Homo sapiens: one gene and its partners. The protein of the gene in region 1 purifies or fractionates together with the protein of each later gene. This does not show direct contact. Each region holds a gene or a part of one and is shown on either strand. Other genes may lie near its edges.

Region 1 (4,007 bases):
GTGATGAATTCAATTCAGTGTACTGGGAATTAAAAAAGGAAAGGAAAAGCGTCCTAATTCTCAAGTTAGAGGACAATTAAGAGATGATACTAATAGTTCATGAAACAACTTTTCTATTAATGAAATAATTGTTAAAGGGAAAATCTTCATAAATACGTCTTTGGAGTTGCTTGAACTGTAGGTAATTTCCACGTTTAGCTTAGGAGGATGTGTGAGTTAGTTTTAGCCATAGAAATAATTGGTTATTTTATCTGTAAATTTTATTGCAGTTTTTAACAAGGAATATTAGAACTATGGTCTACTTATTCAAATTATGTAGCAAATTTTCAAAAGGCAAACATTTTAGGAAATGGGTTGTCATTTTTATAGTACTTAACCTATTGCACGAGGTTTCAATGTAATTTTCCCTTATTTTTATATTTTATTTGAAATTTGCTTTTATTTAATTTTAACTATTTAGATAAGGACATATATGTGTGTCTATGTATATGTTTGTGTGTATATATCCACCTGTATTAAAATTAGGCATAAATGTAAAACTCTTGACATAACATTGTTGTATATACATTTCTGTGTGTGTGCTTAAATCTATGCATGTGTGTTTATAAATACGTACATATTTCATATAAATCATAGCTGGCTTGATTTTTAAAAAATATATTTAAGGTTTTAAGGCAGATTGCCCTATTAGATCTATAATTCATCATCTAACACAGTACAGCTACTGCCTTTCTTTAAAAAGTTAAAATTGCTGAATCTCAAAGCAAAGCTACTGACAAGTTTACATTTGTTCCTTAATTTCTGATTATTATTATTATTATTATTAGTTTTTGGCAAGAAAAAATGTAAAACACTTTCCAAAGTATGCAGCTTTAATTTTTACCATAATAATTAACTTTCTTCTCTGAATTACTGATTATAATAGGACCACACTGTATAGCATTTGACCTTGTGTGTGGTAACTTTTACTTCCTGACTATATTATAATTAAAGGTAGGAGAGATGATTTATGTTATTTGTGTCTCTTTGAGATGCTTTACTTGGATTTGAGAACATATCACAGATGTTGATGTTTAATTAAAACAGCTTAAATTTTTTTGTAGCCATGAGCTTTATTTCAATTGAAAGCCAAAGTTGTTTAGCTTGAACTAGCCTAAAGGGTTTAGAGAAATGGAGAGCATGATGGAGGAATTTCTAGTGGGACGTAAGAGTGCTTGTGTTTTGCTGAGAGGGCAGTTAGTTAATAAGCAGCTTGGTTTATGAGGAACAGATTTGACAAGCTTGGATGGAAAAATTAGGAGTGGAGGACCTCAAATGCCAGGCTCAAAAATTTAGAGACAGTGTTGAAAATATTACGATAGTAGAGCTTTAGGAGGATTAGTCTGGCTGGCAGTGTCCTGGATAGATCAGGGCTGGAGGAGGGAGGAAAACCAGGTAGTAGATCTTACAATACAGTTGCTCTCAGTCATGTCTCCCACTTACCCTGACCACAACAGATGTGAGGATGAGTATACCTGCTCATTGGAGAGTCATTCCTATTAGTCACACTGCACTCTCTGTAGCAGAGATTCTCATCACAAGTGGAAACAGTGGGAAGAGGGTGTCATAAGATTTGAAAAAGACCACAAATTATTCTAATACTCCCTCCCTGTCTTAACCAGGAAAAATTATTGAAATTGTTAAGGTTTAAGGCTACAAAAGCCTGAAATAATTTGAAATTGCTAGGAGTAGCAATTGAAAGCAAACTATTGAGGAACAAAAGAAAATCAGCTGTACTTTGCAATTGACTGAGTGTGGTGGCTTTGACATGCCAAGCCTGTGTGACTTGGTCTGAACTCTAGTACAGTGACTGGCATGGAGAAGGGTGTTCAGTGGGAATTTGTGAAATTTGATCATGGCACCAGAGATGTTAGCTGCTGATGTGAGTGGTTGTGCTACTAGGTGGCAGGCACTTAAAAAGAATAATTTTGTCTTTCTCCAGGAGCTTGTGGAAACACTTCCGTGCTGTAAGCCTTTGTTTATTTTTATTGGTATTCCCTGCTTATATGGCTTATATGATTTGCCAGTTTTTCCACATGGATTTTTGGCTTCTTATCATTATTTCCAGCAGCATTCTTACCTCTCTTCAGGTAAGCCTATGATTAATTAACTCTATATAATAACCAATTTTGTTATTTTTCCTCCCAGAGGAGGAATTAAATTTTTTCAAGATGAATGATTATAAGTGGACTATTCAGGTGATAACTTCTCTCTCTCTTTACTAGAACACATTACATTTATTTGAGCACAGGAGTTAGATGGCAGGTTATGAAAATATTACATAAACCGGCCGGGCGCGGTGGCTCACGCCTGTAATCCCAGCACTTTGGGAGGCCGAGGCGGGTGGATCATGAGGTCAGGAGATCGAGACCATCCTGGCTAACAAGGTGAAACCCCGTCTCTACTAAAAATACAAAAAATTAGCCGGGCGCGGTGGCGGGCGCCTGTAGTCCCAGCTACTCGGGAGGCTGAGGCAGGAGAATGGCGTAAACCCGGGAAGCGGAGCTTGCAGTGAGCCGAGATTGCGCCACTGCAGTCCGCAGTCCGGCCTGGGCGACAGAGCGAGACTCCGTCTCAAAAAAAAAAAAAAAAAAAAGAAAATATTACATAAACCTATTGATGTCACTGTATTTTTTATGAAGGTAATTAAGCCTTTCAGTTTCTCTTTTTCAAAATGGTATGATACAGAGGTGTCATATAAATCTTAAATTGACAAGTAACTAAAATATTAAAAGTTTTTAGAGCTTGTGTTAGAGCTTATTTGGAGTGTGTTTTTTAAATTCCACTCAAAAATACCAATAGTTCCACGATGTATATAAATATATATGTATATGATGTGTGTGTATTGCACACATACAGACATGATACATGTTTCACAGACATGCACACACAAAATATTGCCCTAGAAATGATAAGCTTATTGTAACTTAAAGGAAGATCTTTGCTACCTAGGTAAAGGAAAACATAACACAGTGAAGAGTTATTCATTATTTTTTTGCAGAAGTAAAACTTCTTTGCGAGTTGTAGAACAGGAATGACTATGGTATGAGGAAAATTAAGATGGAGTTGATGAGGTTTGGTGACCTAAGGAATAAGGGAAAAAGATGAATCAAAAAATTGATTACTCATCAGAATCATTTTAGGAAAGTCACGTCTGACGGTGTGGCTTTTTGTTTTCTATGCCTGGATTACTAAGATCACCCACATTTTAGTCATCAGTGTCTTCTCTTTAGAGTTGATTTTTTATTTATTAAAACTTTTTTTTCCCCTGGATACTCTTCTGTATATTTGAAATATTGCACCCTAAAAACATCAGGAATGTGTTATTGTTTAAAGCCTATGAAAAAAGTATCTTAGTGATCATATTTCAAGATACGTACATTTTTTTTTTTTTTTCAGGTTCTGGGAACACTTTTTATTTATGTCTTATTTATGGTTGAGGAATTCAGAAAAGAGCCAGTGGAAAACATGGATGATGTCATCTACTATGTGAATGGCACTTACCGCCTGCTGGAGTTTCTTGTGGCCCTCTGTGTGGTGGCCTATGGCGTCTCAGAGACCATCTTTGGAGAATGGACAGTGATGGGCTCAATGATCATCTTCATTCATTCCTACTATAACGTGTGGCTTCGGGCCCAGCTGGGGTGGAAGAGCTTTCTTCTCCGCAGGGATGCTGTGAATAAGATTAAATCGTTACCCATTGCTACGAAAGAGCAGCTTGAGAAACACAATGATATTTGTGCCATCTGTTATCAGGTAACTCCTTCAATAAGAATGTGTTTGGGTAAGTCATACAGTGTATCCCTTGGGACTGTAACCATATTAACCAAATTCAACTTAAATTTCTAGGCAAAATTATCTTCTGGATTAAAAAAAATGGACCTCAGAAATTATATTAAAGACCTGATAAAATATTTCCATTTTATTTCTAAATTAAGTTTTAAATTTAGTCCCTTGGGTTCTAATGT
Region 2 (4,467 bases), on another chromosome or scaffold:
GCTAAATGTAAATATGTAGCAATGCCTAATAGAGGCCAGGCACTGTTCTGGTACTCTGGGTAGGGGTGGATGGGGTGGATAGGGAATATAAGGACAAATGATATAGGGTCCACGAAGAACTCTCAACCTAATTCTGATGCAATGTGGTGTTGGTATTTGAGAGTTTCCAAAATGTTGTGGGTAGGAGAGCAAAACAATAATATTTGGGTTTTAGAAAGTAAGGCATAAAATAATTTGTTCATTAAATCAAAGGAAGTAAGAAGATCACTTGGGAAAGTTATAATCCAAAAATAGTTAAGTATTTGAGTTTCAGCAGGAGGAATGAAAACAGATTACTTTAAGGAAATATTTCATAATTAGAAATATCCAGGTTTAGATACTGAAAGTGAGGGCCAGAGATAGGAATGGGTTGAAGATGACGCCACAGTCTTCTTTTTTTTTTTTTTTTTTTTTTGAGACGGAGTCTCACTCTGTTGCCCAGGCTGGACTGCAGTGGCACGATCTCAGCTGACGGCAACCTCTGCCTCCCGGGTTCAGGCGATTCCCCCACCTCAGCCTTCAGAGTAGCTGAGATTACAGGCGCGCGCCACCAGGCCCGACTGATTTTTGTATTTTTAGTAGAGACGGGGTTTCACCATCTTGGCTAGGCTGGTCTTGAACTCCTGACCTCAGGTGATCCGCCCGCCTCGGCCTCCCAAAGTGTTAGGATTACAGGCGTGAGCCACCGCACCCGGCCTACAGTACTTCTAACGTAACATCGCAGAAACACTGGAGGAGAGAAGAGAATACACTTCCACTCGGAATTCGCACCCTGGTCGCCTTCATTCGCTGGGTTCACTCGCTGAACTGCCTCGCCCCCGCCCGGGAGGATGACATCTCGGCCTGGGCAGAGACTCGAAAGCCTCCTCCTGCCGCTCGGGATGCTAACAGCAGGGAGAGCTGTGTCTAGTTTTTTTTTTTTTTTTTTTTTTTTTGAGAGGGAATCTCGCTCTGTCCCCCAGGCTGGAGTGCAGCGGCGCGATCTCAGCTCACTGCAACCTCCGCCTCCCAGGTTCAAGCAATTCTCCTGCCTCAACCTCCCGTGTAGCTGGGACTACAGATGCCGGCCACCACGCAAGGCTAATTTTTTTGTATTTTTAGTAGAGACGGGGTTTCACCATATTGGTCAGGCTGGTCTCGAACTCCCGACCTCAGGTGATCCGCCCGCCTCAGCCTCCCAAAGTGCTGGGATTACAGGCGTGAGCCACCGCGCCCGGCTTGTGTCTAGTCTTGCCCGTAGCAGCGTCGCCGACAGCCACGCCGGGTTGTCAGAGCCTCACTAGTTTTTCTCCCGGCCGCCGCTCTTCCCGGATTCAGCCACCTTCCCTCTTCCGGGAACTTGCCCGCGTGTTCCGGCTCCAGGAAGTGCGTCATCAGTCGGCGCCAGCGGCCGCACGCCGCGGAGCAGGGGCTCGGAGGTCCCGGGATTACGGTGCTCGAGCACGCTGGTGGGAAAGGACCCGGGACTTGAACAGTGTTGTGCGGCGCCATGCAGGTCTCCAGCCTCAATGAGGTGAAGATTTACAGCCTCAGCTGCGGCAAGTCCCTTCCTGAGGTGAGTCACTTCCCGGCCCCCTCACTCTCGAGCTCTTGGGGGTCGTCCTCCTCGTGGGGCAGCCGCCCCTCTCCTCGGCCCTAGCCTCTGTTTTAGCTGGACGCTGGTCACCCCCCGACTCGGGGAGGCCCAGAGGCGGCTGACAATTTCCGGGGGAGGTGTCGGCATTGGGAGACAAGGACACTGCCGTCACCGCGCCAGAAACTGGACCAAGGGATAATCAGGGTCAGTGAGCTTTGCTGGAACTTTTGTAAAGTTCTCTGTTCCAGAGAACGCAACCATTTGGGCCTCTTTGGGTGTTCACAGTCCCTGCCGTACATCGAGGAGGAAAACGTGGCAGATTCGTTGACACATCTCTCCCCCATATGGCCATCAGCTGTTTGTGGAGTCCCTATCATTTGCCAGGTCTTAGGGATACAACAGTGAACAAGGGAGATACAGACTTCGCATCTGCAGAATTTATGGTGTAGAGGACAGTATTTTCGAGACTTGTTGAACTTAACCTGATTCCTAGTCTTAAAGTTGGAGAGGGCTTGGACAAGTCGGTAATTCTCTTCCAATCTTCTCGTGTTTAGTAATGCAGCTGAGATTTAATAATGCGTTTAATATGCAGCTGAGATCCAGCAAGGGGAAGGGTGACTTGTCCAGCATGACACACTTAGGCTCTGAAACTTGTCTTTTGTTTCTTATACGTGATGATCCAGCCTCTGTCCAAGCACTACCACTGAGCACTACCTTTTGTGGAAGCTCATTTCCATTTTGAGACTCTGCACTTGTTAGAAAGTGGTTTTCAAATATGTCACCTTATAGCATGCCACTGTTGGCCTGAGTCCTGCCCTTGGAAAACAGAATAAATATAGCTCTCCTTCCATGCGTCTGCTTCTACAAAAATTTGGAGCCAGTGCTTAGGTTTTTCCTTTCTTCCTAAAATTCTGGTTTGAATAATTCCCTGTCTTCCAGTTGTTCTTCACACCCCATGAGCTTTCTCATTTTGTTCATTCATTCTCCACATGTATTGAGAAGTTACTGTGTGCAAGCAACTCTGTTTTAAGTATTGGGATCTATAGTGGACATTTCAGATAAGGTTCCCTGTTGGGGAAAAGGGAAATAAACAAGTGAGCAAATAAGGCAATTTAAGGTAGTCAAAAAGTACTTTTCGTGGTGAATGATTAGAAGAGAGCTGTTTTGGATAAAATATTGAGAGAAAGTGTTTTGGATAAAACCTTCGGGGAAGGCCTCTCTACAAGAGGTGACATATGAGCAGAAACTTGGATGATGAAGAGGAGCCAGTCGTGTGAAGATGTGGGGAAGAGTTTTCAGTGCTGAGAACAGAAAGTGCAAAAGCCCCACATGGGAATGCACTGGACATGTAGGAGGACGGAAGAGGCACAGGTGTGATTGCACTATGCTGAGTGAGGGGGCGAGAGCAGGGTGGATGAGGCTGGAGAGGTAGGCCTGGTAGGAAAGGTAGGAAGTTCAAGTTTTATTCTTAGTGCTGCTGGAAGTCACTGTTGTGTGGGCTGCTGTGCGACAAATGTCTAGCTGGGGAGGGTTCAAGTCGGGATGAATTAGGTAGTCCAGGTGAGCGACTTCGGTGGCTTGGGCTTGCCTGGTAACAAAGAAGATGCTAAAACACAGTGAGATTCAGGACATACTTTGTAGATAGGGTAATGGAACTTGCTAATGGATTGGACTGTTGGTAGAGGGAAGTTGAGGTGACAAAAAGGAAGGAATCAGAGAACTCTTCAGTTTTGAGTCTGAACAAGTGGGTGCACGGTGGTGCTGCTAACTGACATGGAGAAGAATCAAGAAGGAACACATTGAAAGGTGGAGAGGAGGAACGTAGTGAGCAAAAAGAATCAAGATTTTTTTTTGAGGTCGCGTGCAATGGCCTGATGTTGGCTCACTGCAACCTCTCGGGTTCAAGCGATTCTCCTGCCTCAGCCTCCCCAGTAGCTGGGACTACAGGCACGTGCCACCACACCAGCTAATTTTTGTATTTTTAGTAGAGACGGAGTTTCACTATGTTGGCCGGTATGGTCTCGATCTGATCTTGTGATCCACCCACCTCGGCCTCCCAAAGTGCTGGGATTACAGGCATGAGCCACTGCACCCGGCCCAAGGTTTTTATTTTCAATAGTGAACATTTGAAGTTCTAATACATACCAAATGGAGATGTTGAGTAGTTAGCAGTTGCATGGATACTAGGATGGAGATTGCAGGTGAATTTACTGTCGTTATTTGGGACTAGGTGAGATCAAATTGTGAGAGAAAGAACAGAGAAGATAACTAGGCTGAGGACCTGAGGCAGTCTTAGCATTTGTCATCCAAGAAGAGGAGGGGAACCCAGCAAAGAAGAAAGAGTAGTGGGCACTGATGGAAGGGGAGACTGGGAAATGTGTAGTTTTGTAGAAGTAAGTGTTTCAAGGAGGAGGTGGTGGTCACCTGTGTCAGCTGCTACTGAGAGCTTCAGTAAGATGAAGGCAGAAAAATGACCATCGACTTTGGCATGATGCAGAGCGCCCTTGACCTTGGCAAGGAGCTCCAGTGGAGTGGTGGGGAGGGTAGCTTGAGCTGAGTGGATTTGGAAACCCCTGCTTGTCCTGTTTAATATTTTCTGGTTATTTCTTTGAGGTGTGGTGCCTAAACTACACGTGGAACCCCAGTTGTTGTCTGATCTGTGCAAATATTGCTTCTCTCCTTCTGGGCTTTACCTTTTTATTAATGTAGAGAAGCCTCTACGTTTACTCCCCTGGTGATCCTAGGCAGTCTCCTGGCTTTAAGCACATCTGCATATCGATAACTATCACATTGATGTTTCTAGCCCTTACCTCTACTCTGAACTGGACTTGTGTATCCAACTGTTTCTTGAC
Region 3 (2,801 bases), on another chromosome or scaffold:
TTTGTAGTTTCGGTAGAGATGGGGGGTCTCACTGTGTTGGCCAGCCTGGTCTTGAACTCCTGACCTCAAGTGATGTGCCTGCCTCAGTCTCCCAAAGTGGGGGGATTACAGGCGTAGGCTACCACACCCAGCCTATGGTCTTACTATATTGCCCAGGTTGGTCTCAAAACTCCTGGCCTCAAGCAATTCTCCTGCCTCAGCCTCCCAAAGTGCTGGGATTACAGGTGAGAGCCACCTTGCCTGGTCAGTAGGTTTGATTTTTAATACCCCAAATGTCAAGTTTAACCACAAACCTGGTCAAATTCCTGTTGTCTTTCAGAAGTTACCATATTTATAATTTGCTCCAAGTTACAAGTCTGGTTTTATTTACATTTACTTATACAGCATATCTAATTTGACTGTCAGTTGTCTATAATATTTAGACCAGATGAGATCCAAGAGTGTTAAGGCCTTAAAGATGTGTTTTAATTTTAAGAAGAATTAAGGTATCCTTAAACTCTACAGCAGCATATCCATCCTTCTAAAGTATTCCAAAAATGTGAAGGACAGACAGAAGACTTTTCTGTTGCTACCAAACAGAAAAACCACTGGAGAGCTCATGAATATTTCAAATGCAATTTACGAGCAATGCAACTCTAGAACTGCCTTTAAATGGAGTTGTCCTCTTAAAAAGTTAAAATCGGTTTTCAGATATTTTTCCAGAGAGTACTTTGAGATGCATAAAATGGAATAAATCAGTGCTATACAAAATAATGAAAATATTTTACACTTTTATTTACAAGTTAATTTCATAAACTATACTTAACATGACTAAACAACAAAAAGTTCTTGACTTCCATCCTTTATGGCTAGAAAAATAAATTATTTTAATAGTTATTTAAACATGCCTCCTGCTTCCAGAGAAATTAATGTATTAAATATATATATTTTTCAAATTATCCCTAACATTTACACAAACTTGAGTAGATACTGCTCTATTTTTACACAGAATTGTAAACAGCCTTTTAAAAAGCTAGAGTAACTTTCCACTAGTTAGAACTGAACATTGTAAAATATAAAAATTTTATAAACCCTATAATGCAGGTAATTTAATTATGACTGATCTGTAGGAATATACAATAAAAATTTGTCAGTCATCCACAATTAAGTACAATTATTTATGGAGAAAAATTTTACTATGTCCAGAAAAAGATTTTATTCATGTTCTTGAAAGATAGCTTTGTTCCCAATAAATATTCCCTCCTATTATTTTTGTACATTTTAGGAAAAGATGTATTCAGTTCAAAAATAAGTAACATCCAGTTATTTGACTTTTTGCTTTTTTCTTGCTTGAAACTGCTCTGTTTTGGTTTTTATAGATTTAATCAACATTGACAAAGCAGGATCAATGGACTTCCTTTGTGATTCCTTTTCAATCTCACTCTCTTTTTTCTTTATTGCCTGAGTAAGTTCTTGTTCTTTCCGTTCTCTTTGCCGGGCCTTCTCCTCAAGGATTTTTTCCATAGCTTTTGTTTTCTTGAAATTGGGATCTGAGGGGTCCAAATTGAACAAGTGGGAAGTGTACATTGCCTGAAACCGTGCATCGTTAACATTTACCTGCAAATCCAAAAAAAAAAAAAATTAATAAATTAATTAAACAAAATTACTAAAGCAAAAGGCCAGAAATGGGGCCAAATTTCGAAAGTTGGTGAGTTGATTATATAAAATACAAACCTGAGTGTTTGTACTGATTCATTAGGAAACTGTTTTTCCATAGCTCTTTATGGCCTACCTTTGGACCACAACTTGTGGGGCACCCTGTTCTTATCATGCAAGGACAATGTATTTCAAAGGGAATTATAGTGGGCCATACATATACATATTATGGCCGGTAACTACAACGACCACTTAGACAAAATGACTGTAGCAGTGGTTTGTGAGGCAGGGCTTTCCCATGCTTACAGCACAAAATCAATTTCTTACCAGCATAAATAAGCCAATCAGAACATCTGCTGGAGGCCCTGAACTCTGAGTACATGTTAAGAAATTTTAATCTTGGTGCCAAAATAAGGAACTATTGAAGGTGATCCATGGATCAAAAGATTTAAAGACCACTATGGCAAATAATCCATCTGAGATCAAGGTCTGGTCAGACACAAGCCCCAGATTTATCTTCTTTCTATAAAAACTTGTGGTTCCATGTTTAAGAATATACCCTTAACTGCAGCCAGCCTTTGAGGGCTGCCAGGCAGATGGGTAACCAGCAGAAAGGGAAACACACGAAATACAAGTCCACCTGGAGATAGATTGTAGCTTTACTTAGTTATCACGAGGCCAAGGGATTTGATACCCAGAACAAGGAAAAAAATCCTGTAAAAAATACTTTTATGCATATATTAATATATGAAGGCAGAATGACTACAAATCATTCTTTGCTTTTCATAAGGAAAGTAACTCAATAAAAACCTAACTGGAATGGGAGCATATGTGAAACTGACTCAAACAACAGAAGCTACAGAGTAGCCCCCAAATCCTTCTATATGCTACTTAGAAGCCATCTGTATGCTACCCTCCATTGTTTGAACAAATTTAAAATTTCCCAAATTTCCCCCATCTTACTCAGGGTCAGTTCTTCCACATTAATGGTTGGAAGTCATTAAGCAGTTTCTAACAGCTGTTTGTAGATTTTTGGTAGACGGCTCAAACTCATGCTTAGGGGACTCTGCAGCCATTAGGAATATGTACTCAACAAAAAGAGGAAGGAGTAATGGAAACAAAAAACACAGCAACTGAAAAAACATGGCTTACTGCGCTGGCCACTG
Region 4 (2,840 bases), on another chromosome or scaffold:
CCTGACACAGCGGATTGAACGAGAGAAGAAATTGTTCGTTATTGCTCAGAAAATTCAAACACGCAAAGATCTTATGGTGAGGAGAGAGAGCCTTAGGCCTCTTTTTTTTTTTTTCCCCCTTTTCTTTCTTGTAAAGGTCTTAACTCAGACTAGATTTCAGCTGTGTGTAAATCAACCCCAGTGAAAATGTCTGCTCCTCAGGGGCAGTGGTTTGAGCCAGTGTCTGTTACTCTGACAGTGTTGAAATGCGCCTTGATTAAGGAGGTAATAAGGGGGTTATTAGTCAGTGCTTTGGAACAGCAAAGGGTAGGATCGGGTAGCATATGAACTTTATAGCTTATGAGCAGCTCCCGTAACATTTAAACAGGTTAACAAAACAGTGCATGTCACTCATTGGTGTTTAAAAATAGACAACATTGTGTAGTTAAATAGCAGAGCTGAGGAATATAAGATGCCTCTTTCATATTCTTATCATTCCTCTAAATGTCAAATTCTTTAGCTTTGTAGATCATTTAGGTCAGCCTTTCTCAACTGGGGTTCCGTGAGAGAATTAAAATTATAATTTTAAATGAAACAACTACTTGAACACCTTTCTTCTCAGTTTTCCTAGGACTGTACACAGCTAGTACTTTCTAGATGCCTAGGGGAGAAGTTAATTCATTGCCTACAGTGGATGCCTTGGGCAGTAGGGCTGTGTCCGTTCTCAACTTTGAGAAGGGCTGAAGCAGGTGCTAATAGGTAGTTTATTAACCTTTCGATTTTACAAAACCATTTCCTTCTCTTTACTGATCACCTTTTTACTCTTTTGTAGGATAAAACTCAGAAAGTGAAGGTGAAGAAAGAAACGGTGAACTCCCCAGCTATTTATAAATTTCAGAGTCGTCGAAAACGTTGACGTGTTATAGATAAGCCTTGTCATTCTGTATCAAAAATCTGTTGTCGTTTTCTAGTAACTTCAAATTCCATTACTCCAAATGGCATGGTTTTCCGGTTTGTAACCATAACTAAATTGTCAGTCTGACATTTAATGTCTTTCTATGGACAACATTAAATCTCCCTCCCTTCTGTAATTGTTTTTGGATTGTGAAATTAGTCTTATTTTTATATACTTAATTTTTTTTTTCTTTGAGATAGGGTCTTTGTTGCCAGGCTGGAAGTGCAGTGTGTGATTATGGCTCACTGCAACTTTGAACTCCTGGGCTCAAGTGATCTTCCTGCATCAGCCTCTTGAGTAGCTGGGACCACAGACATGTGCCACCATGTCTGAGTAATGTTTAAATTTTCTGTAGAGACCAGGTTTTGCCATGTTGGCCAGGCTGGTTTTGAACTCGTGGCCTCAAGCGATCCTCCCACCTTGGCCTCCCAAAGGGCTGGGATTACAGGGATGAGCCACTATGCCCAGCCCATAATTTTTTTTGTTATGAAACATAGGATCTCATTACAGCAGATTTGGAAAGTAGATTAATTCATTCCTAATCCCAGTGCTTATTCAATAATAACAAATATTTATTGCATGCTTAACTGTGCTAGGAGCTAGAGCTGTGGAGGTGGACAATTACTGTGAGTAGTCTAGTTGATTTCCTCCATTTTGTAAAACGAGGCATCACTTTTTGTCCATGTTTTTGTGTTTTATAGTTACAGTAAACAATTTGATGTCCTACTTTTTTTTTTTTTTTTTTTGAGACGGAGTCTCGCTCTGTCGCCCAGGCCGGACTGCGGACTGCAGTGGCGCAATCTCGGCTCACTGCAAGCTCCGCTTCCCGGGTTCACGCCATTCTCCTGCCTCAGCCTCCCGAGTAGCTGGGACTACAGGCGCCCGCCACCGCGCCTGGCTAATTTTTTTTTGTATTTTTTTAGTAGAGACGGGGTTTCACCTTGTTAGCCAGGATGGTCTCGATCTCCTGACCTCATGATCCACCCGCCTCGGCCTCCCAAAGTGCTGGGATTACAGGCGTGAGCCACCGCGCCCGGCCGATGTCCTACTTTTTAATTAAATCATTAGCTCTTTCCCAGTTTGTTACATCACAAAAGTTTTTTACAGTAATATATGCTAGAGTAAACGTTAAAATAAATATTATTTTTAATGATTGCATAGTGTTTTATCTAGTGGATAGACTGATTTTACCCTCACTCATTCTTCTTTTATTGGCTATTCAGGTGGCTTCATAAATTATCCAAGGAGGAATTTTTTTCTCTTACTTAACAGCTGCAGATAGAAACTCTTGGAACAAGGAACCTACGGGAGCACCTCTTCCTTATTGATGAAGCTCAAATCAGTATAGGCCTGGCTGTGTCTCTGTCCTCTGCACTCCATGCCAACTCACAATTCCAAGGCTAGAATAGCTTGGTGCAGACCTTCACTCTGGGAATATGGACCCCTGGGTGTGTTGGCCAGCTTCTTTCTCTTCTCTGGTTCTCTCCTTCCTTTGTTTGCCCATATCAGGATTATAGGCCAAGGACAGTAAGGACAGGACTGAACATGCTTAGAGCAAACATGGGAGAACAGGGAGCGGGGTTCTGGGGGGCTTGCGTAGCCCTTACACCAAGGAGGGAGAACAGCCATGTGTGGATTGTAAGGCTTTAAAAGAAAATTGTTAATGCTTAATAAGTGCCCATGACTGTGAGCTTCCTGTACAAGCCTAGACTAGAAGCCTGTTTCCTCAGGGTGTACCCAGTGGAATTTAAATCAGGGGCCCTGGAAAACAGCAAGAAGGGTCAGGAAACAGAAACCAGTAGGTTTTGCCTTCAGGAAGGAAATGCTTCCCATTGTGTGTATGCACTCCCTTCTGGGGAGGTGCTGAGCTCAGTCAATGCTGAAAGTTTTAGAGACTTGAGGATCA

Evidence for each region. The genes of interacting proteins can lie anywhere in the genome.
Region 2: the proteins of RNF145 (region 1) and NOL10 purify together in Homo sapiens (affinity purification with mass spectrometry; one large-scale study listed by BioGRID and IntAct). This does not show direct contact.
Region 3: the proteins of RNF145 (region 1) and ESF1 purify together in Homo sapiens (affinity purification with mass spectrometry; one large-scale study listed by BioGRID and IntAct). This does not show direct contact.
Region 4: the proteins of RNF145 (region 1) and UTP11 purify together in Homo sapiens (affinity purification with mass spectrometry; one large-scale study listed by BioGRID and IntAct). This does not show direct contact.

Annotation. Positions count from the first base shown.
Region 1 is NC_000005.10:159,161,054-159,165,060, reverse strand, and holds part of RNF145 (RING finger protein 145), read left to right. Parts: intron 1-1,981; coding exon 1,982-2,129; intron 2,130-3,438; coding exon 3,439-3,795; intron 3,796-4,007. UniProt on the Homo sapiens protein: E3 ubiquitin ligase that catalyzes the direct transfer of ubiquitin from E2 ubiquitin-conjugating enzyme to a specific substrate.
Region 2 is NC_000002.12:10,686,923-10,691,389, reverse strand, and holds the start of NOL10 (nucleolar protein 10), read left to right. Parts: upstream 1-1,414; 5' UTR 1,415-1,528; coding exon 1,529-1,594; intron 1,595-4,467.
Region 3 is NC_000020.11:13,713,572-13,716,372, forward strand, and holds the end of ESF1 (ESF1 homolog), read right to left. Parts: intron 1,597-2,801; coding exon 1,303-1,596; 3' UTR 754-1,302; downstream 1-753. UniProt on the Homo sapiens protein: May constitute a novel regulatory system for basal transcription. Negatively regulates ABT1.
Region 4 is NC_000001.11:38,022,734-38,025,573, forward strand, and holds the end of UTP11 (probable U3 small nucleolar RNA-associated protein 11), read left to right. Parts: coding exon 1-76; intron 77-811; coding exon 812-895; 3' UTR 896-2,087; downstream 2,088-2,840. UniProt on the Homo sapiens protein: Part of the small subunit (SSU) processome, first precursor of the small eukaryotic ribosomal subunit.